Linked DNA regions of Homo sapiens. The protein of the gene in region 1 interacts with the protein of each later gene in a biochemical or structural test. Each region holds a gene or a part of one and is shown in the gene's direction. Other genes may lie near its edges.

The links.
Region 2: of the proteins of PEF1 (region 1) and USP9X, one has a biochemical effect on the other in vitro, tested with the Homo sapiens proteins (one study listed by BioGRID).
Region 3: the proteins of PEF1 (region 1) and CUL3 form a complex in vitro, tested with the Homo sapiens proteins (2 studies listed by BioGRID).

Annotation. Positions count from the first base shown.
Region 1 is NC_000001.11:31,629,274-31,634,896, reverse strand, and holds the end of PEF1 (peflin), read left to right. Parts: coding exon of another isoform or gene 1-51; exon of another isoform or gene 52-231; intron 232-404; exon of another isoform or gene 405-1,582; coding exon 1,583-1,738; exon of another isoform or gene 1,739-2,258; coding exon 2,259-2,402; coding exon of another isoform or gene 2,403-2,461; intron 2,462-4,054; coding exon 4,055-4,284; 3' UTR 4,285-5,031; downstream 5,032-5,623. UniProt on the Homo sapiens protein: Calcium-binding protein that acts as an adapter that bridges unrelated proteins or stabilizes weak protein-protein complexes in response to calcium.
Region 2 is NC_000023.11:41,080,523-41,088,466, forward strand, and holds the start of USP9X (ubiquitin carboxyl-terminal hydrolase 9X), read left to right. Parts: upstream 1-4,922; 5' UTR 4,923-5,587; intron 5,588-7,094; exon of another isoform or gene 7,095-7,143; intron 7,144-7,944.
Region 3 is NC_000002.12:224,505,320-224,512,431, reverse strand, and holds part of CUL3 (cullin-3), read left to right. Parts: intron 1-849; coding exon 850-1,078; intron 1,079-5,428; coding exon 5,429-5,574; intron 5,575-6,299; coding exon 6,300-6,476; intron 6,477-7,112. UniProt on the Homo sapiens protein: Core component of multiple cullin-RING-based BCR (BTB-CUL3-RBX1) E3 ubiquitin-protein ligase complexes which mediate the ubiquitination and subsequent proteasomal degradation of target proteins.

The DNA of each region.
Region 1 (5,623 bases):
TGGCAGAGAGAAGGAGCAGGAGAGCTAGCAAGAATGCACAATGCCTCTTAAAGCTTCTCTGAAGTACTGTATGTCTTGCCCACTTGCATTCTTTTGGCCAGAGCACCCCCTGATCAAGACTGACATCAGTAGGATGGGAAAGGATGCCCCTCTGCAAGCCACCAGGCAGTGGGAGAGGATGTACAATGCTCTTATAGGGAAGGGGAGATTAGCAAGTAATCTAATAATAGATTATTGAACTGGCCTTTTAAACCATTGTACCATATTAGTACAATGTCTGTGGGTGTGCAGACTGTGTCTCCTGGCTAGAGATTATTAGCCAGGAGACGATAATGTAGCCTACCATGGGGAGAAACTCAGTTTAAATATCCGTTTCTCTGTGAAAATATCTCAGAAGACACACATTCCAGGCTCTTTGCTGAGGATTTTATTTTGCTGTTATCTCATTTAATCATCACAACAATTCTGGGGAAATGGGTTCATTTTAGAAATGTGAAAATCATTACTCAGAAAATTGTACATTTTGCCTAAAGTCACACAAGCTAGTAAGGATCAGATCCAGGGTTTGAATCCAGGTCTGCTTTGATTCCAAAGCCTGAGCCCTTCTATACAAACTACACAGTTCAAACATGTCACAGAATCTCTCCTGCCCTGGGGCTGTGGCCCTTGCTCCCCTATGACACCGATGTTTTAGGAAGATGGCTAGAACCTGCCCGGATTTTTCCAAGGAAGTCAGACTAATCCCTAAGTCAGGCATACCTTTTTCCCTCTGTCCTTACTGGGCTTTGGTACTAGGCAGTGGTTTCTGTCCTCCACAACTGCCCATGGCTGTCTTTGTGTGAAGGGACCCCGATTGTGGCCAGTTAACTCAGTGTCCTAAGGTAGACAGACTTACCAGCTTCTACACTGTTTTTTTTGGGTTTTTTTGTTTTTTTTTTTTTGAGATGGAGTTTCGCTTTTGTTGCCCAGGCTGGAGTGCAATGGCGTGATCTTGGCTCACCACAACCTCCACCTCCCGGGTTCAAGCGATTCTCCTGCTTCAGCCTCCCCAGTAGCTGGGATTACAGGCATGTGCCACCATGCCCGGCTAATTTTCTATTTTTAGTAGAGACGGGGTTTCTCCATGTTGGTCAAGCTGGTCTCAAACTCCCGACCTCAGGTGATCCGCCTGCCTCGGCTTCCCAAAGTGCTGGGATTACAGTCGTGAGCCACTGTGCCTGGCCACTTCTACACTTTTATCTACCACCCATTCCCCCATCTCGCAGTTTACCTTTTCCAGAGAATTCTTGAAATGCTACAGGGGTACAGGTCCCCGTTCCTTAAAAACATAAAATCAATTAAGAGTAGTGTCTGGAACACTATACGAGAACTCCAGAGGACTCATGGAATAGAAATCAACTGCAAATACTCATGAATCTTCACTGAAGGTCCTCTTCCATCAGAGTAAGAATGTCAGCTTGATGGAAGACAGGGAAGGTGAATTTGTGAAGCTTCGTGTGTAGGAGAAACCTGTAGCCAGGAAGTTACTGAGGCTGGCCCTTCCTGGCATTTCTGTTGATGGCCTTCACACCCCTTCCTCCAGGTGGCGCCCCTCCCAATGTGGATCCTGAGGCCTACTCCTGGTTCCAGTCGGTGGACTCAGATCACAGTGGCTATATCTCCATGAAGGAGCTAAAGCAGGCCCTGGTCAACTGCAATTGGTCTTCATTCAATGATGAGACCTGCCTCATGATGATAAGTGAGTCTCCGCCTTGCCCTTGGGCCTGAGCTGGGGCAGAGCCACCTGATAGTGGACAGTAGGTGGGTAGGTGGGTGGGTGGACATTCTGAAGAGAAATTCATTGACCAGGGAGGACTGTGGGGAGGAAGCTAGGTTCAGGGTGAGATCCCCTAGACTGAGAGCTCTTTTCCTGAGATCTTTCTTAAGTTCTAGACCCTGCCTAGTTACAGGTTAACTTAGTTTCCTCTTCTGTAGAATGGTACTCCCTCCCCTGTAGGAAACAGCAGGGAGGGGTCAGGTGCCAAGCCTGCAGAGAAAATGCAGTTCTGGATGGGGTGGGGCTAAAGGTGTCCAGAGTAGGAGGACGGTGCAACGCTTGATGTGGGTGTCTCAGGTGCAGGCATCTGGGCCTCAGGGCTTGGTTCTGTGAAGTCGCCTACTCCAGCCTGGAGAGAAGGGCTGCCTCAATGGGTCCTGAGGGGGACCCTTGGCCTTCAGTCTTGAAGCCTTCCTCCCCTCCTTTCCCTCCTCACCTTCAGACATGTTTGACAAGACCAAGTCAGGCCGCATCGATGTCTACGGCTTCTCAGCCCTGTGGAAATTCATCCAGCAGTGGAAGAACCTCTTCCAGCAGTATGACCGGGACCGCTCGGGCTCCATTAGCTACACAGAGCTGCAGCAAGGTGCGGGTCATGGCCGGGGCACGATGGGCAGGACAGAGCTAGACTCTTCTCTTTACACCCTAAGATACAACAAAGGGGTTTCCTCTTGTTACCGAATGTCCACCTGCACTACAAAATGCTGTTCTCAGTGCAGGCCTGCATCCCTCACCCCTTCTTTGACCCAGCTGGGGCACTGAGCCAAGAGCCAGGGCAAGGAAACACCTGGGTCCAGAATCAGGGCTGGACCCTGGAGTGCTGGGTGAGACGGCCCCAGCCACAGGGAGCCTTAAGGATGGAAACTTGGCACCTTAAGGACTATGAGACCAGTGTGTGTGGCTTGGGTGACTCCTTTCTCTCCAGTTTCTAGCATGTAGAATGGAAAGAGCCCTGAACAGGGCTCAGAAAGATGGGTCTGTTGCCACCTCTGCTAGTGGACAGTTTCTTTCCCAACTTTTGGGACCCTGAGCACTCTAAAAGTTGCAGTTGGGGAAGATGACCTGAGGCCACAGCCCCAGGTCTGGTTCCAAACTGACTGTGTAAGGCAGAAGGCCACAGTTTGGGCTCAGGCAGGTTAGTAAGAGGTTGGGGGAGGACCCAAGAGGGAGCTTTGCCACCCAGGAGGGAGAAAGGGCTCCCCAGAGAGTCTAGTCCTTTGCCCAGGCTGTGGATTTCATTCAGACTAAGGAGGTCTGTGGGCAGGAGTGAGTGCACCACATCTGCCCCCAGTAAAAGGGAGGGGAGATGACCTATAGTAATCACCTACTCTTGCCAGCTTTTGTCGTGGATATTAGTAAGGGTGATATTAACCACAACAAAACGTATTTACTGAATGCTTGCTATTTTTAATAGGCTTATGTAATTCATTCTTCCCATGTGCTAGGTACTATTTATAATTCCACACCCTTCAATGAAGAATCCCTTATAATCTCCCTTTTACCGGTGAGAAAACTGAGGTTTAGTGTAGGTAACCTGCCCAAGGGCCCGCATAACAAATGGAGAGCTGAGGTTTTAGCCTGGCCTGGTAAGTTCTGAACAGAGGAAGGAAGGAAGCATCCCAGTGAAGAGACAGGATGCTCCAAGAGACCTTGGAGTGACAGTGACTTTATTAAAATAGCATTTACCAAGTGCTTTTTCTGTGCCAGTCACTGTGCTAAGTGCTTTACATGATCACCCGTTTTAATCCTTACTAGAACCTACAAGTTAAGTATTATCCCCATTTTAGAGATGATAAGATAGGGATAGTGAGGCTAAGCAACTTGCCCAGTGGCTGACTCCAGAGCAGGTCCTCATACCTCTGCTGTACTGCCTCTGATGTCTGCCCCAGGCAAGGTGGTCCTGGGAGCTCAGGCTTCCTTTTGGAATGCAAACGAATCAGAGATGATTGCGGATAGTCCGTTGTCGTCTCTGCAATCCCCTGAGCCTCAGTTGAAGAGACAATAATGGAGATTTGGAGAAAGAGGGATGAGGGCCTTCCACCTAAGGGGAGCATCCAGACACGGTCCCTGTTGTGTTTCTGACATCTTAGACAGACCCTTGGGATTTCTCTACCCTCTTTGTGCTTCTGTGCCCATCCTCTCGAAGTTCCTTGAACTGTTGTGATCCAGTATTCCTGATTGATGGAGGTGCTCATGGCAGGTTTTTGTGTGTCTGGTCTGTGTGCCCCTCTTCTCCAGCTCTGTCCCAAATGGGCTACAACCTGAGCCCCCAGTTCACCCAGCTTCTGGTCTCCCGCTACTGCCCACGCTCTGCCAATCCTGCCATGCAGCTTGACCGCTTCATCCAGGTGTGCACCCAGCTGCAGGTGCTGACAGAGGCCTTCCGGGAGAAGGACACAGCTGTACAAGGCAACATTCGGCTCAGCTTCGAGGACTTCGTCACCATGACAGCTTCTCGGATGCTATGACCCAACCATCTGTGGAGAGTGGAGTGCACCAGGGACCTTTCCTGGCTTCTTAGAGTGAGAGAAGTATGTGGACATCTCTTCTTTTCCTGTCCCTCTAGAAGAACATTCTCCCTTGCTTGATGCAACACTGTTCCAAAAGAGGGTGGAGAGTCCTGCATCATAGCCACCAAATAGTGAGGACCGGGGCTGAGGCCACACAGATAGGGGCCTGATGGAGGAGAGGATAGAAGTTGAATGTCCTGATGGCCATGAGCAGTTGAGTGGCACAGCCTGGCACCAGGAGCAGGTCCTTGTAATGGAGTTAGTGTCCAGTCAGCTGAGCTCCACCCTGATGCCAGTGGTGAGTGTTCATCGGCCTGTTACCGTTAGTACCTGTGTTCCCTCACCAGGCCATCCTGTCAAACGAGCCCATTTTCTCCAAAGTGGAATCTGACCAAGCATGAGAGAGATCTGTCTATGGGACCAGTGGCTTGGATTCTGCCACACCCATAAATCCTTGTGTGTTAACTTCTAGCTGCCTGGGGCTGGCCCTGCTCAGACAAATCTGCTCCCTGGGCATCTTTGGCCAGGCTTCTGCCCTCTGCAGCTGGGACCCCTCACTTGCCTGCCATGCTCTGCTCGGCTTCAGTCTCCAGGAGACAGTGGTCACCTCTCCCTGCCAATACTTTTTTTAATTTGCATTTTTTTTCATTTGGGGCCAAAAGTCCAGTGAAATTGTAAGCTTCAATAAAAGGATGAAACTCTGGAGTTCCATGTTTTCCACCATGATTTCTCAGCTACAGGTCCATCCACTCATCCTTTCAGTGACTATTTAAGTACATCCTATACACCACGCCATGCAGAAAGCAGCAGCTTGGGGGGACATTGCCTATGTGGGGCTCCTCTCCACTGCCAGAGGGAAGTTGAAGTATAGGGTAGCCAGCTGAGGGGCCTGCCGGGTTCAGTTCAGTATGGCCTGAAGGTCTATTTAGGAAGCTATTTCATAGCAGTTTTAGGGCTGGCATTCTGGGTTGAAAGCAGCTACCTCAAACTTCATAGCCTGGCCTTTTCTATTTTCTCAGGCCCTAGTTTTATCTTCCAGACAAACTCCATTTATTAAGTCATAACGTTCTCCCCACTTTTATTAAGCACAGACATCTGTACTTGCAAGTCAGATCTTTAGATCAGCATAATACCCAGTCTACACCGAGTGTCTCTAATGAGCTGACCACATTTCAATCAAAAGCCAAAGACACCAGACATTCTAGTTTGCCAGGGGGCTTTATTCTGGGTAATGGTGATTATCTTTTGGCTTTTTGAGATAAAGAGCTCTGAGGCCCTGTGCAGGGCTCTCCTCCCT
Region 2 (7,944 bases), on another chromosome or scaffold:
AGGGATGATCCAAGGCTGGGGCTACTCTTGCTGTCCTTACATCCAAGTCTTTGGCTGGGAATAGGTCAGTTTCAGAGACATTCCCACAGAGCAGGAGGGACAGACTACTTCTAAGCAGGTTGTTAGGCACTGGTGTCTAAAATTTGGTCAAATTTTAGACACCATGAGCAATAGCACATTATCAACTGTGATCATTTAATTATCTCTTGTTCTCCCTAGCTACATTTTCTGCCTGTTGTCATAAAGATTAAGTGGGACCACCTACTTAGATTTTTAGTTATCGTATTTTTATATTAAAAATAGTAACTCATTGTGGACTTTGCTCATTCCATTCAATCACAAAGCCTTCTCTAGGGAACATATTATCAAAGGTCCCTCCTCTTCTATTTTAGTTTGGCCATTAGCCCAGAAAGTATTTCCACAGAACTTTAAAATTTGTACCCCTGAAAATATTAAATAACATCAATTTATCCAGGAAAATTTGTCTATGGTTTAAGATAAGTGTCCTAGTAAACAATGAGTATACTTATCAGATATTTCTGGGGCAGGGGGAGTGGGGAGAGAGAGCAATGAGAAATTTCATGAGGAAATGTAATATAATAAGGTTTTGCCCTAATAAAGCAGAACCAGGAAGTTAAAAAAAATTACAGTTTGAAAACTAAAGGACAGGTGTTAGAAAAGAGAAACCCAAACAAAGGAAGAAGAAAGACCTGGACTATATGGATTTTAATTTAAGGAGTTGCACTGTGATAATAAACCTATTCTTTTAACTCAAAACTGTTTATTTCCTATCCCATTAACTAAGTGGAAGATCTCAAAAGGGGACAGTCCTGTAGGCCAAATCTACCCTGGGAGCCAAGGTGCACCCTCTGGGTAGCTCGAGAGAGCACAAGGCATCAGTTGGTGGTGAGCTTGACTTGAGAGTTGAGACTAAAACAGCTGGTGGGAGAGTAATGTATAGCCTAAACCATATGAAATTGTATGTGGCTGGATTTTCTTTTCTTCATTTTTTTTATTGTAAAATACAGATAACTTAGAATTTACCATTTTAAGAGTACTATTCAGTGGTATTAAGTACATTTGCAATGTTGTGCAACCATCACCACTTTGCATTTCCAGAACGTTTTTCATCATCTCAAACAGAAATTCTGAACCCATAAAACAACTCCCTATTACCCTCCCCCTAGCCCCTGGTAGCCTCTATTCTACTTTCTGTCTCTATGAGTTTGACTACTTTAGGTACCTCATATAAGTGGAACCATACCATATGTGGCCTTTGTGTCTGGCTTCTTTCACTTAGCATAATGTTTTCAAGGTTCATCCATGTTGTAGCATGTATCAGAGTTTCATTCCTTTCTAAGGCTGAATAATATTTCATTGTGTGTATACACCAAATTTTGTTTATCCATTCATTTGTTGATGGACATTTGGGTTGTTTCCACATTTTGGCTATTGTGAATAATGCTGCTATGAACGGTGGTGTTCAAGTGTCTGTTACAGTCCCTGTTTTCCCTTCTTTGGGGTATATACCTAGGAGTGGAATTGCTGGGTCATATGGTAATTTTATGCTTTTTGAGAAACTGCCATGTTGTTTTCCACAGCAGCTGCACCATTTTACATTCATGCCAGCAATGTAGGAGGGTTCCAATTTCTCCACATCCTGGCCGGACACTGTATTATTATTATTTTTTTGGTTAATAGCCTTTCTAATGGGTGTGAAGTGGTATCTCATTGTGGTTTTGATTTGCATTTCTCTAATGACTATGATGTTAAGTGTCTTTTCATGTGCTTATTGGATATTTACATATATTCTTTGAAGAAATGGCTCTGCAAGTCCTTTGCCCATTTTTGACTTGGGTTTTTTGTTTTGCTGAGTTGAGTTGTAGGAGTTTTTTATATGTTCTGGATATTAATGCCATATCAAATATATTATTTGCAAATATTTTCTCCCATTCTGTAGGTTGCCTTTTCACTCTGTTGATAGTGTCTTTTGATGCACAAAAGTTTTTAATTTTGTTGAACTCCAATTTGTCTATTTTTTCCACCTGTGCTATTGTCATATCCAAGAAATTATTGCCAAATCCAATGTTGTGAAACTTCCCTGTCACGTTTTCTTCTAAGAGTTTTATAGTTTTACCTCTTATGGTTAGGTTTTTGATTCATTTTCAGTTAATTTTTGTATGTTATGTGAGGAAAAGATCCAACTCCATTTTTTTGCATATATATATATATATATATCCAGTTTTCCCAGCACCATTTATTGCAAAGACTATCCTTTCCCTCATTGAATGGTCATGGCACCCTCGTGGAAAATCAGTTGATCATATATGTTAAGGGTTATTTATGAGCTCCTTATTCTATCCCATTGGCATATATACCTGTCCTTACGCAGTACAGTTTCATAGTGAGTTTTGAAATCAGGAAGTAGGAGCCCTCCCAACATTGTTCTCCTTTTTCAAGATTGTTTTGGCTAGTGGCGAGGTGGGGGGGAAACTCCTTATCTGTATGAATTTTAGCATCATCTTGTCCATTTCTGCAAAAAAAAAAAAAGCCTGCTGGGATTTTGATAGGGATTGCATTGACTCTGTAGATCAATTTGAGGAGTATTGCTATCTTAATACTTTTATTTCAGTCTTGAATGTTTTTCAATGATGTTCTGTAGTTTTCAATGTACAAATCTTGCATTTCTTTTGTTAAATCGATTTTTAACTTTATTGATTTTGATGCTATTGTAAATGGAATTTTAACTTAATTTTCAGATTGTTTATTGCTAGTGTGTAAAACTATAACTGATGTTTAAATATTGATCTTATATCCTGCAGTTTTGCTGAACTTGCTTATTGGCTTTATTTTTTTTATAATGGATTTCCCAAGATTTTCTATATATAAAATCATGTCATGTGAAAGTAGCGATAGTTTAATTGTTCCTTTCTTATCTGGATGCCTTTCATTTCTTTTTCAGGCTAGAACTGCAAGTACAATATTGAACAGAATTGGTGAGAGGGGACATCCTTGTTAAAGGTGCACTTTTGATAGGGTTAAAAGACCAGTGTTCAACACTTTCCAATCCTGACTTCGGGCAAATCATTTACCCTTTCTGTTTCCTTATCTAAAATAGAAAATAACAGCCTATAGTGTACGCGGGTGGTCGTGTCTGCTTTTTAGAAGCCCATGAGCTAGTGGGGAAGCAAATGATTCATGGAAATAATTATAAAAACAAGGTAACATATGCTAAGAGTTATTAGGGCTATGAATGATACATCTTGGATACCCTATTAGATAATTTGTGGTGAAAAATTTGTAAACAATCTTGTGCTAAATAGAGAAATGGTTTAAAAATTTAAGATACCAATAACTTGCTTTCACTGTCACCTACATTAGTTTGGTTCCATTTTTAACAGTCTTTTATTACAAACTGATATAATCATAGCATAACTAAATTCAACCCTCTTCTCTATAAAATAGATCTCGGTTTGTAGGGTTTTACTATGATTTTGCATGCCATTTGATGTCCACAGGTATTTTTTAAGTCAAAAGGAAATCTGTAAATTAGGAACTGTTAATTTCCTCTTCATTTGGGCATCCTAGGTAGACTGTACAGATTTGTTCCAAGCACCCCATTAATTTGAGATTAGCCTAAGTTTTTCCTATGCCCGCACTTTGGAATATAAACATGTAGAAAATAGTCCATGACACAGCGGATGGGTTCATAAGTTTCTTCCGGGTCCTAACACCGAATTGTGCTGATGATCTGGCAATGGAGGCTAATCTTGCCACATCAAGTACGGCCTATTCGCTAAGCCGTCTGGGGCACTTTATAATTTTTTTCTTTGCTGGTCTGTTTGAAGGGCTCCTATGGCCAAAAAGGTGGTCAGTCCCGTCAGCTAGGCTGTGAGGACGCCTAAACGCTTTGAGGACGCCTAAACGCTTTGAGGTAGTGATGATGCATGATCGTGTGAAAGAGTTTCTCAGAGCACCTCCCTCGCGGGGTGGGGAAAAGGACCTCACTCCCCACGCCCCCTCCTTCCGCTGCGGGAGATAGCCACACCTTCCCCCTATCGGCGCCAAGCAGGTGGCCAGGCCCTCGGGACCTCGCGCCCCCGCAGCCAGTGGCCCGGCCAGCTCGTGCGTCACGTGACGCGGGTCAGCTGCACCGCCGGGACCTCCAGGCACCGCGGCGGCGACCGCCCAGCGCGTGGTCTCGAGATCTCATCTTTCCGCGCCCCTCCCCCCACGGTCCCGGAAAAGGGGGAGGCCGGTGACGTCATCATCCGGGTTCTTGTCGGCGGGGCTACGGTTCACAATGGAACAAAAACAAGCGGCCCGAGTCAAACTATGAGCGACGCGGCTGCGGCTCACGCGATTAACCCTGTCGTGGCCACACACCCCGCCAGTCCCTGCCGCCCAGCCCCTCCCGAGTGGTGTGCCAGATCTTTTCGGGCCTCCCTTCCCCAACTTCGGTCCTAGAGCCACCTCTGCCCTCGTCCCGCTCCTGAGCCGAGGGGCATGGAACAGGATTTCTGGCCGTAGCACGACCCTGAAGGGGCCAGCCGGAAGAAACAGTACTGCGCGAACAATCTTTACCGCATTGTCTTCCCCTCCCCCACCCTAGCTCTCCGGGTTCCCGGCGGCTCGCGCCGAAGCCCGGCCCCCTCAGCGGCTCGCGCTGCTCTCCCAGCCTTGACGGCCCGGGGTGGAGGGAGAGAAGAGGGGGCAGCTGAGCGGGAGGGGGCTGGGCAGGAGCAGGGGGAGGGCCGAAAGGAGGGGCCTGAAAGGGGCGGGCCCTGACGGGGGCGGAGAACTTCGGGTCTTGGGCGGCTCTGGGGCTAGTGGGAGTCTGCGCCGCCGCCGCCGCCGCCACCGCTGCTGCCGCCGTCGCCGCTACCGCCGCCGCCACTGGCCGAGCGGTTTTTTTTTTTTTGGTTTGCCGGATCCGCCATATTGACGAGGACGGGCATCCGCGGCTGCGGACGCTAGTCTCCGCCGCCGCCGGAGCCGCAACCTCTCCGCACCCGGCCCCGTCAGGGCCTCTGTCGCGCCTAGCCCCTCCCCGCCTTACACAGCTCCCGGGCCTCGCGGGAGCCCGCCGCCGCCGCCTCTCTCTCACGGGAGGCGGCCGCCTTAGCGCCCGGTGCTTGGGTCGGCGCCGGGAGCGAGGAGCGAGCTACTTCAAAGCCACCAGGCCTGGAGCGGGGACAGAGGCGGCGACTAGGGGAAGGTGAAGCCGTCGCTGCAGGAGGAGGAGCAGGAGGAGGTGACGCAGGAGAAACGCACCGCCCGGAGCCCGTCTGAGCTCAGCGAGAGCCCCAGCCTGAGGGGAGAAGGGGAAGAGGGCCGTCGCCGGCCAAGGAGGAGGAGGAGGCGGGCGCGGCGAGGAGCGAGTTCCGGCGCCGGTGTGCAGCCTTTTGGTTGAGACGCCCGCAGCCCCGAGCCCGGCCGCCGCAGCCTTTCGATACACTTTGTTGCCGGTCACCCCCGGGCCTGGGATGCACCCAGGGTAGGTCTCGTCCCGGGACCGAGCCCCACCGTCGCCTGGTGCCTCCCGCCTCCGTGTGCCCTGGTTGTGAGAAGACGTCTGTGTCGTGCGGTGAGTGGCCAGCTGCACTGGGGCGACGCTCTTTCCCGGGGCCAACAGCTGGATGTGGGTGAGGGGAGGAGGGCGAGGGGGGTGTGCGTGTGTGCGAGCCTCTTCCCTCGGCGGCTGCCGGCCAGGCTGGGGCTTCCCCGTTCCCCCTCCTCCGGCCCGGGCTGGGCGGGCGCGCGGGCCCGTGTTGTGTGTGGAGCCGGTGTCCCGAGAGCGTGTCTGTGTGTTTTGGACTGTAAGGGAAAATGGCTGACGGCTCCGTCCCTCCCCCTCCTCCCCCTTCCCGTCCTGTCTGGGGCCGAGTAGGAGGATGGAGTCTCCGGGCGTGGCGGGCAGCCCCCCCGCCGTCCGCACCCGGGGGCCGGGTCGGTTTGGGGGCTGGCCGCCCCCCGCCCGGCGGCCGCTTTCCTACCCGGTCTGGTTCCACTTGACACCAAACGCCATTACTGAGGTGGAGTGATTTGGAGCTGGGGAGCTAGGCCTCGGCTACGCCTGGCTATCAGGCCTGACGACTTGTCCGCCTCCCCCCACCCTCCCGCGATAACCCGCAGTTTCTCCCCGGCCCTGGGCTCCTGGAGTGGGAGCTGGGTTATCGGCCTCCTACACCTCCTTCGCCCCGCTTTATTTGCAGAGGGCCAAAGCCGTGAAAGGGGTTTTTGAATGCAGAAATCGCTTCCAAGCTAGCTTGGACCTATTACCTTTCTATTTTTAACTGTTTCTGCAAATATTAGCATGTGCGAGTTTGGTAGTGATCAGGTCTTCAGATTCTTGTGACGTGAGGCTTAGGGTTGGATAAATGGCTGATTTTTCATTCATTGTGAAATAAGTTAAAGAGTTATACAGCAGGTGTGTAGATGGCTTCTTAAATTATTTGTGTGGATTTCTGTAGCGACTAGAACTTACACGAGAATTTGCAAAATTTCTAGTAGAACCTGCTTAAATTAAGCATGTTATTTTTTGGAAGTTCCATAGTTACAACGTTAATTGAATTTACACGGTGCAGTTTACAGGTGTATATAATTGCTTCAGATTGTCTTTTAGTTTAAATAAGCAAGTTGTAGGTATAGATTAAATATTCATGCTTTATTTTTCGGGGAGAGAAGTATGTGTACTGTTCTTTTACCTGGAAACCCATGAGTCCCTAAATCTACTTAACGTTTGTATACTTTCACTTTTGAGGAAGAATGATTTGGGGTGCATTGATTAGGAAACTTTCCAGCAGGTACTTAACCCTCTCGGAGCTGATTACCCTTAGGTAAGGACTCCTTAACCATGACTAGCTTGGCTGGTTAGTACACTTGAACTCAAAAATAGAGACTATAAACTCTCCTTTAGATCTCGCTCGTCTTCTAATTCGCTGGGCTGCCATTTTGGTTTCAGCAAATACCTTCAAATTCTTGAAGAATTATGTATTAAATATAAAAAAGTGTCAACATTCGTTTTCTCAATTTTTAAACTCATGTGCTGTGTCATACATCTAACTTTAACCCTTTAAACTTTATCGTTCCAGCTTTTGGGTGGAGTGAAAGCTTGAAGTATTTGGAATTGGTGTTCCACAGGTGAACTCAAAATGTCTTTGGTATTTTACTGTTTTATTTTCTCTAATTTAAAAATAGGACGTTTGGACTATATGAATTCTCTCTACCCCTTTTCTTGTATTTTTTTGCATGAACATGTAACTTGTAATTCTGGTTATCAGCGTTCTCATGTTTCTTTTGTTTGCTGACCTTGGTAGTTTCTGAGAATTTCTGGAGGGAGTAATAGCACCAGCAACAGTACATGTGAGAATCTTAAGTTACTTCAGGAAGGAACATTGAAGGGCAGATTTTACCTTTCACCAGGTTATTGGGGTCTCTAGTTTGGTGTTCCATAGTCCATAGTTCTCATGGTTTTGTTTGTTTGTTTTTTTGTCTGTCGCCCAGGCTGGAGTGCAGTGGCACGATCTCGGCTCACTGCAACGTCCACCTCCCGGGTTCAAGGGATTCTCCTGCCTCAGCCTCCCTGGTAGCTGGGACTACAGGCGCGTGCCATCACGCCCGGCTAATTTTTTGTATTTTTAGTAGAGACGGGGTTTCACCGTGTTAGCCAGGATGGCCTCGATCTCCTGACCTCGTGATCCGCCCGTGTCGACCTCCCAGTTCTCATGTTTTATCTATGGAATGCTCAAGTAGGATTTACTTTAGATCTTTTTTCTTCCAGAGTCTTGTTTTTAATATCTTAAGGTATGAGATTTCTTTGCTATCTTCTCAGAGATTTTTCTTTGACATGGTGGTAATAATGCAGCTTATGGTTTTGAAATGGATGTTTGTCATGAATTTGCTAATCATCCAGTTCTTGATTAGTTGGTCACACAACAAGTG
Region 3 (7,112 bases), on another chromosome or scaffold:
GCCAAAACAGATGTATTCGTAGGAAGCTAAAGTGTTGGCCGGGCACAGTGGCTCACGCCTGTAATCCCAGCACTTTGGGAGGCTGAGACGAGTGGATCACTATATCAGGAGATTGAGACCATCCTGGCTAACACGGTGAAACCCCATTTCTACTAAAAATACAAAAAAATTAGCCGGGCGTGGTGGCGGGCGCCTGTAGTCCCAGCTACTCGGGAGGCTGAGGCAGGAGAATGGTGTGGACCCGGGAGGTGGAGCTTGCAGTGAGCTGAGATCGCGCCACTGCACTCTAGCCTGGGTGACAGAGCGAGACTCTGTCTCAAAAAAAAAAAGAAAAAAAAGATGAATAGTTATTTAAAAGCTCTTATTTTCAAACTTTAGTGTACATGTTTACTCTTTGAGACTGGGAGTGGGATGGCACTGGAAGACTTAATTAACCAGCAGTATGCCAGCAAAGCTTATGATAAACATGATGAATCTTTCTGGTTATAATTTTACATTAAAACAAATCAAAAAAGAATGTCCCACTGTATCTTGGAGTCAGATGCTTCTAAGCTTTTGACCCTCACTGGCGTGTATATACTTGTTCTGCTATTTTTTGGAGTACATTGGCACAGTTTGAAAAACATTGCTTACAGATAATGTTTTAATTTAGTATTATGTAAATACCAAAGGCTTTAAAGGATATAATTCAGACTATATCAGTCTTTCGTGTAATGAGAAATTACACAAAATGCTAATAGTACTTATTTTATTTAGGCTGATTTATTATAAACACTGTAGAAACCCAGCTAAAAGCAAAAACACTCTTTTCTTCTATGTTTAAAAAATATATATATTTTTAAATGGCAGATGGAAAGCCAGAAATTTTTAGCAGAAAATAGTGCTTCAGTATATATAAAGAAAGTAGAAGCTAGAATTAATGAAGAAATAGAACGAGTGATGCACTGCCTTGACAAATCAACGGAAGAACCAATTGTAAAGGTGGTTGAAAGGGAACTCATTTCCAAGCACATGAAGACTATAGTAGAAATGGAGAATTCTGGGCTAGTACATATGTTGAAAAATGGAAAGACAGAAGGTAAGTGTTACCGATTGAAAAATAATTAAATCCTTACTCTGCCTTATCGATATTTTTAAAATTTTCCTACAATTAAAGCAGATAATATCAGCTTTCAAGAAGTTTTGGTGTGTATTGTTAATTTGTCTCCATTGTTAACTTTAATGGGATTTCCAAGCTTGATTCTGTCTTACTAACGAAGATTTTAGATATTTCTAATGAATTGAGCATTTCCTGTCTTTAAGTCTCATTTTACATTTAATCCAGAAGATAAAAGGTGTAATAGTATTGGTGAGCCCAGTGAGCTCCTCATTCATTCCTGTACTTCCTGTATACCAAAGGGTGTGGGCTCTCTTTAGTCCTACATACTCTCTTGGGGTTTTGTGATTCTCTTAAAACCTTAAGTTTCCACCTTAAGATTTTTGTAGACTTTCCTTTGGGATTTAGTTGTGACAGGGTGCTGAAAATGCAAAAATATTTGTGTCTTCCATATTGACATACTTAGATAAATTAGATTGGTTTGGGGAACACTGAAGTTACAGAATGGAAAAGGAGGAAGGAGGAGTGCATAAAAGTAAAGAACATTTTTGAGATAACTAACATTTGTTTTTTATAGCTATTTATTTTCCTGGGGTAAAAGAAAAATTGTGACAAGTATCCTAGAAGAAATTACAAGTTAAAAGAACAATAACCATATCCTCTATTCTTAGTTTCTGATGCTTTGTTTTAAAACTTTGCCTTTACCACTTATATGGTATTAGGAAATAAAAAACATGGTACTTTGTTCTCCTGCTTCCTAGACGAAATCTAAGCAATATTTTATCCACTTCTTTTTAGTAAAAGAAATACATATTGCCTGTTGGGGTCATGAGCTATGTAGGGAATGAAAAAATTTTTTAAAGGAGAATTATAAAGAGAAGGAGGATACAAGAGAAAGGAAAACGAAAGCTGGTGGGAAGTTGAGCCATGTTTATCTCTAGTGGAATCCTTACCTTGTGTTTTAAAATTGTTAAATGTTTGTATATATGAGAAATCCCTGAAAAGTTATATGTAATTTAAAAAAACAAAAAAAAAACAAAAAAAACTAGAGAGGCTTCCTTTTTAAAAGACTCTTCAGTTAAACCTTTTTTGTAAAAGCCAAAAAAAAAAAAAAAACAGAAGTCATCTAGTATATTTGCTGTGTTTTCTAAAATTGAGGTCCAAGTCAGGGGTTGGCAAGCTTTTTTGTTGTTGAATAAAATGGCTTGTGAGCCACGCAGTCATAGTGAGAAAATAGTCCTAGACAATAACAAATGAATAATCCTGTGTTTCTATAAGACTTTATTTATGGGCCCTGAAACTTGAATTTCATATAATTTTTATGTGTCACTAAATAGCATTCTTTACAGTTTTTCCTCAGCCATTAAAAATGTGAAAACCATCCTTAGTTCATGAGCTGTACATAAATAGATGGCAGGCTGTATTTGCCCCACGGGTTCTAATTCGATGACCCTTCTCTAAGTGGTCTCTGGTAGACTGGGACTTTATGCAAAGCATTTGCCCTGCTTAAACAAAATGAGTATTGATAAATTATGTAATGTACTGTTTAGGTATTGAATGAATGCTTTCTTACCTACCTTAGGGGATAGGAAATGTTTGATGGAGAGGTTGTTGGGCATACCTGAATTACAGCATCTCTGTAACCTGTGTGGAGATGTATGTAAAAGGTGTCAGGTATGCCTATCATGGCGAGCACTTACGTGAATGAAGGAATACCATAATAGTACTCACCAGAGTTCTCCTTTATTTAGTACCTTAGGTTTCCAACAACACAGTAGCTATCTGTGATTCTAAATTAAATTTTAAAATCCTGCTTTTGTCCAGGCAGGGTGGCAAACGCCTGTAATCTCAGTATTTTTGGGAGGCTGAAGCAGGTGGATCGCTTGAGCTCAGGAGTTTAAGACCAACCTGGGCAAATTGGTGAAACCCTGTCTCTATGAAAAATACAAAAATTAGCTGGGCATGATGGCACATGCCTAGTCCCAGCCACTTGGGAGGTTGAGGTGAGAGGATCATTTGAATCTGGCTGGGGAGGTCAAGGCTGCAGTGAACCAAGATGATGCCACTGCACTCCAGCCTGGGCTACAGAGGGAGATCCTGTCTTAAGAAAAAAAAGGTGGGGGGGTTAATTTTTCTGAGCTTCCGCTAGAAACCTGGTGGCAAAATATCCTAATTGTGGTAGGCCCTGCTCTTGGAAAAAATGTTGCTCTTGTTGAGAATATAGCAGAGCCAACTTCACCATTATGAAGCCAAATTCTCATAAATCAGAAAATGAAAAACAGTTTTCTCACTGTGAATGGAGGATAAATTGGATTGATTATTAGATGCAGATAGCACTATGAAATGAAGTTCAGAGGTATCTTTTTTTTTTTTTGAGACGAAGTCTTGCTCTGTCGCCCAGGCTGGAGTGCAGTGGTGGGATCTCAGCTCACTGCAAGCTCTGCCTCCCAGGTTCATGCCATTCTCCTGCCTCAGCCTCATGAGTAGCTGGGACTGCAGGCTCCCGCCACCACGCCCGGCTAATTTTTTGTATTTTTATTAAAGACAGGGGGGTTTCACCGTGTTAGCCAGGGTGGTCTCGATATCCTGACCTTGTGATCCGCCCGTCTCAGCCTCCCAAAGTGTTGGGATTACAGGCGTGAGCCACCGTGTCTCGCCAGTATCTTATTATTTTATTAAGTGTATGTAGAAATAATGATATTTAATTTTTGCATGCCAAATTATTTTCATTTACTTTTACATTCCCTTTACCCCAACATTTAAATACAATGAAATTGTAGTAATTTATGTACAACTAAATACACAACATGTAATATCTAAGCAAAACTTACAACAACATAGGATTGAAATAGACAAGTTGTGAACCATTTTGTTAGAAGTATTTGGTGTGCCACATTTACTGTAGTATGTGTCCATAGATTGTTGCATTTGTAATACCTGTTCTAAATATGGGAAACTTGGTTGTAATTTATGCTAAGTATGTGAGAAGCTATAAAATTGCCATGTGTAGGTTACTATGGGCATATATTATTAATGGAAACTAACTAAAATTTGCTGCTGAAAGTCACTGAAATAAAGTTTAGTAAAACTTTGTAAATCTTGCTTTGAAATATTTTAAAAATGTATACAACTTTAAGCTCTAAACTACTCTTAGAACTGTAGACCAAGGTAGGCAAATTAGGGCCTGCCTGGTGCACTACCAGTTTTGTTAAAAAAAAAAAAAAAATCAAGAGTATTTACACATGAAAATTTATATAAATTTTCAGGGTCCATGAAGTTTTATTTGAAACATAGTCACACTGAATAATTTATGTATTATCTGTGGCTACTTTCTTGCTACAGCGTCAGAGTAGTTGAGTCAGAGCTCTATGGCTCACATTTTAAAATATTTATTATCTGATACTTTACAGAAAAAACATTGGTCAGCCTCTGATCTAGAAACTCTTAATGCCATTTTAAAAAGTTATTGATTGTAAAACTTTTAAAATTATCATTGTAAAGTTCTGACACTGTGTTCTCCCAGTAAGTTGTTATTGCAAAGAAACACTAGACATATGGGAAAACTGTATTTTAAAATCTGTATTTTAGTCTTGTGAAAAATGATATTAAAAAATGGATAGGATCCAGAGTTTTCATTCTAAATTTAAAAAGTATAGTGAGATAGACCAAATTTTGAAGTACAGATATTGGCTTAGGATGCTACCTGGGAAACATTAGGGATTGCTCTCAGGAAAATATTGAAGAAGTGGTATTTATATTATACATTTCATAAAAACTTTACCTGAGGTGTAATGAAGTAAATCCTAGTATAGTTCATTTGATTTGTTTTCATGATTATCAGTTAAACCTTTGGAAATACCCATAAGACTTAAACTGGCTTTAAAATTTCTTCCTCATTACAGGGACTACCAATTACCTCTTAATTAGTGACCCTTTTTGTAGACGTTTTGTAGTGTCATTAGGTCTGCATTAGAGTTATGTAGGATAAAGTATTTATGAACTCAAAACTGCAGTTGCCATGTTTTTGTGACATTACTTGTTTATTATGGTTTTTGACATCTCTTCCATGTAAATTTAAATTTGCTAGGACATTTAATTGATGGTTTCAAAGCATCTCATCTAAAAGTTGTGTTTTATAAATTACAATAATAACCATTAACTAGCCTACTTCTTCATGTTTTCATATCAATATATGTATATTTTTAATAGTCATGTGGTCAGCAAATGGGGGTAATGGAGAAATAAGCTTCTCTCAGTATTATAGCGTGAACAGAGATTCGTGTTTTTTTCTTTAATCTTTAATGTAGCCAATTTGTGTTTTCTGATTTGTAGACCTTGGTTGCATGTACAAGTTATTTAGTCGTGTGCCAAATGGTTTGAAAACAATGTGTGAGTGTATGAGTTCCTATTTGAGGGAGCAAGGTAAAGCTCTTGTTTCTGAAGAAGGAGAAGGAAAGAATCCTGTTGACTATATCCAGGTAAGTAAACCCAGAAGATTCTCTGTGTTTATGATAAAGGCATTTTGACAAGTGCTAAAAAGGCCACTTTTACCATGCTGTGTATTGTGTACTTTCAACTTAATTGTCCCAGTAGTAAATTAATATTTGTAATTATCCTACATATTTTAGGATTTTGCAAGGTGTGCGTATTTATATCAGGGAGCTAAAATTCAGCTGCTACTTTTCATTTAACTTCTTTGATGAAGACCTTGTTTAAATAGCCTCAATAGTGAATGTGAGGTTCTTTGGTATGCCTTAGTGTTTGTATACTGTAGTATATTGGAAAAAACAACTGGTTTAAGTATTTTTTGTTTGAAAATGTTTTGTTTTCAAGGAGTACTATGAATAAATTATGTGCCATGTTTTGTGTTTTAACATAATCAGCTTTTTTTGGTACATTTTTTAAGCTAATTTTTTTCACTGGCTAACCCATTCCATCAAGACAGGAGAATGAGAAACAGTGAGGAGGTTCTTTGGTTCGTTTGCATTGTATTAATACATATATGGAAGTTATAATACTTCTCTCATTGACATTTTTAATAGAGGCTTAGATATAGGCTTGAAAATAATATCAAAACTGTAAGTTTAAAAATGAATATACATGTTTATTACCAGCAAAGTTAAGATAAACATACATGGTCATAAGTGTATTATTTATGGAAAAATTATTATAATGTGTCCTAAATTTTGTTTTTATTTCTAAGGGCTTATTGGATCTGAAGAGTAGGTTCGATCGCTTCCTCCTGGAATCATTCAACAATGACCGTCTCTTTAAACAAACTATTGCGGGTGACTTTGAGTATTTTCTCAACCTCAACTCCAGGTCTCCTGAATACCTCTCATTATTTATTGATGATAAGCTGAAAAAGGGAGTCAAAGGGGTAAGTAGTAATGCATTTGAAAATAACATTTAATTTTATTTAAAGATATAAAATTATATGTAAAATTAGGACATTTCACAGATAAAAATTAAGCATGACCCATTGCTGTGCTTAAATGGGTGCCATGGTCTATTAAAAAATATTGTTTGAAATACTTGACATGCCCAAACGTAGTTAGACATTTCACTTAATGTGTAATTGGCTTCAAAAACAAGCAACTGGATGGGCTTGGTGGCTCATGCCTATAATCCCAGCATTTGGGGAGGCCAAGACAGGAGGCTCTCTTGAGGCCAGGAGTTTGAAATTAGCCTTGTTAACTTAGTGAGACTCCATCTCTACAAAAAAAAAGAAAAAAGAAAAAAATTAGTGGCACACAGTGGTATACACCTGTTGTCCCAGAAGCTGAGGCAGAGGATCACTTGAGCTCAGGAGTTCAAGGCTGCAGTGAGCTGTGATCGCGTGACTGCACTCTATGCTGGGCGACAGAGCAAGACCTTGTCTCAAAAAAACTGAACAACTGTCCAGGTATGGTGGCTCATGCCTGTAATCTCAGCACTTTGGGAGGCCGAGGTGGGCAGACCACCTGAGGTTGGGAGTTTGAGACCAGCCTGACCAACTTGGTGAAACCCCATCTCT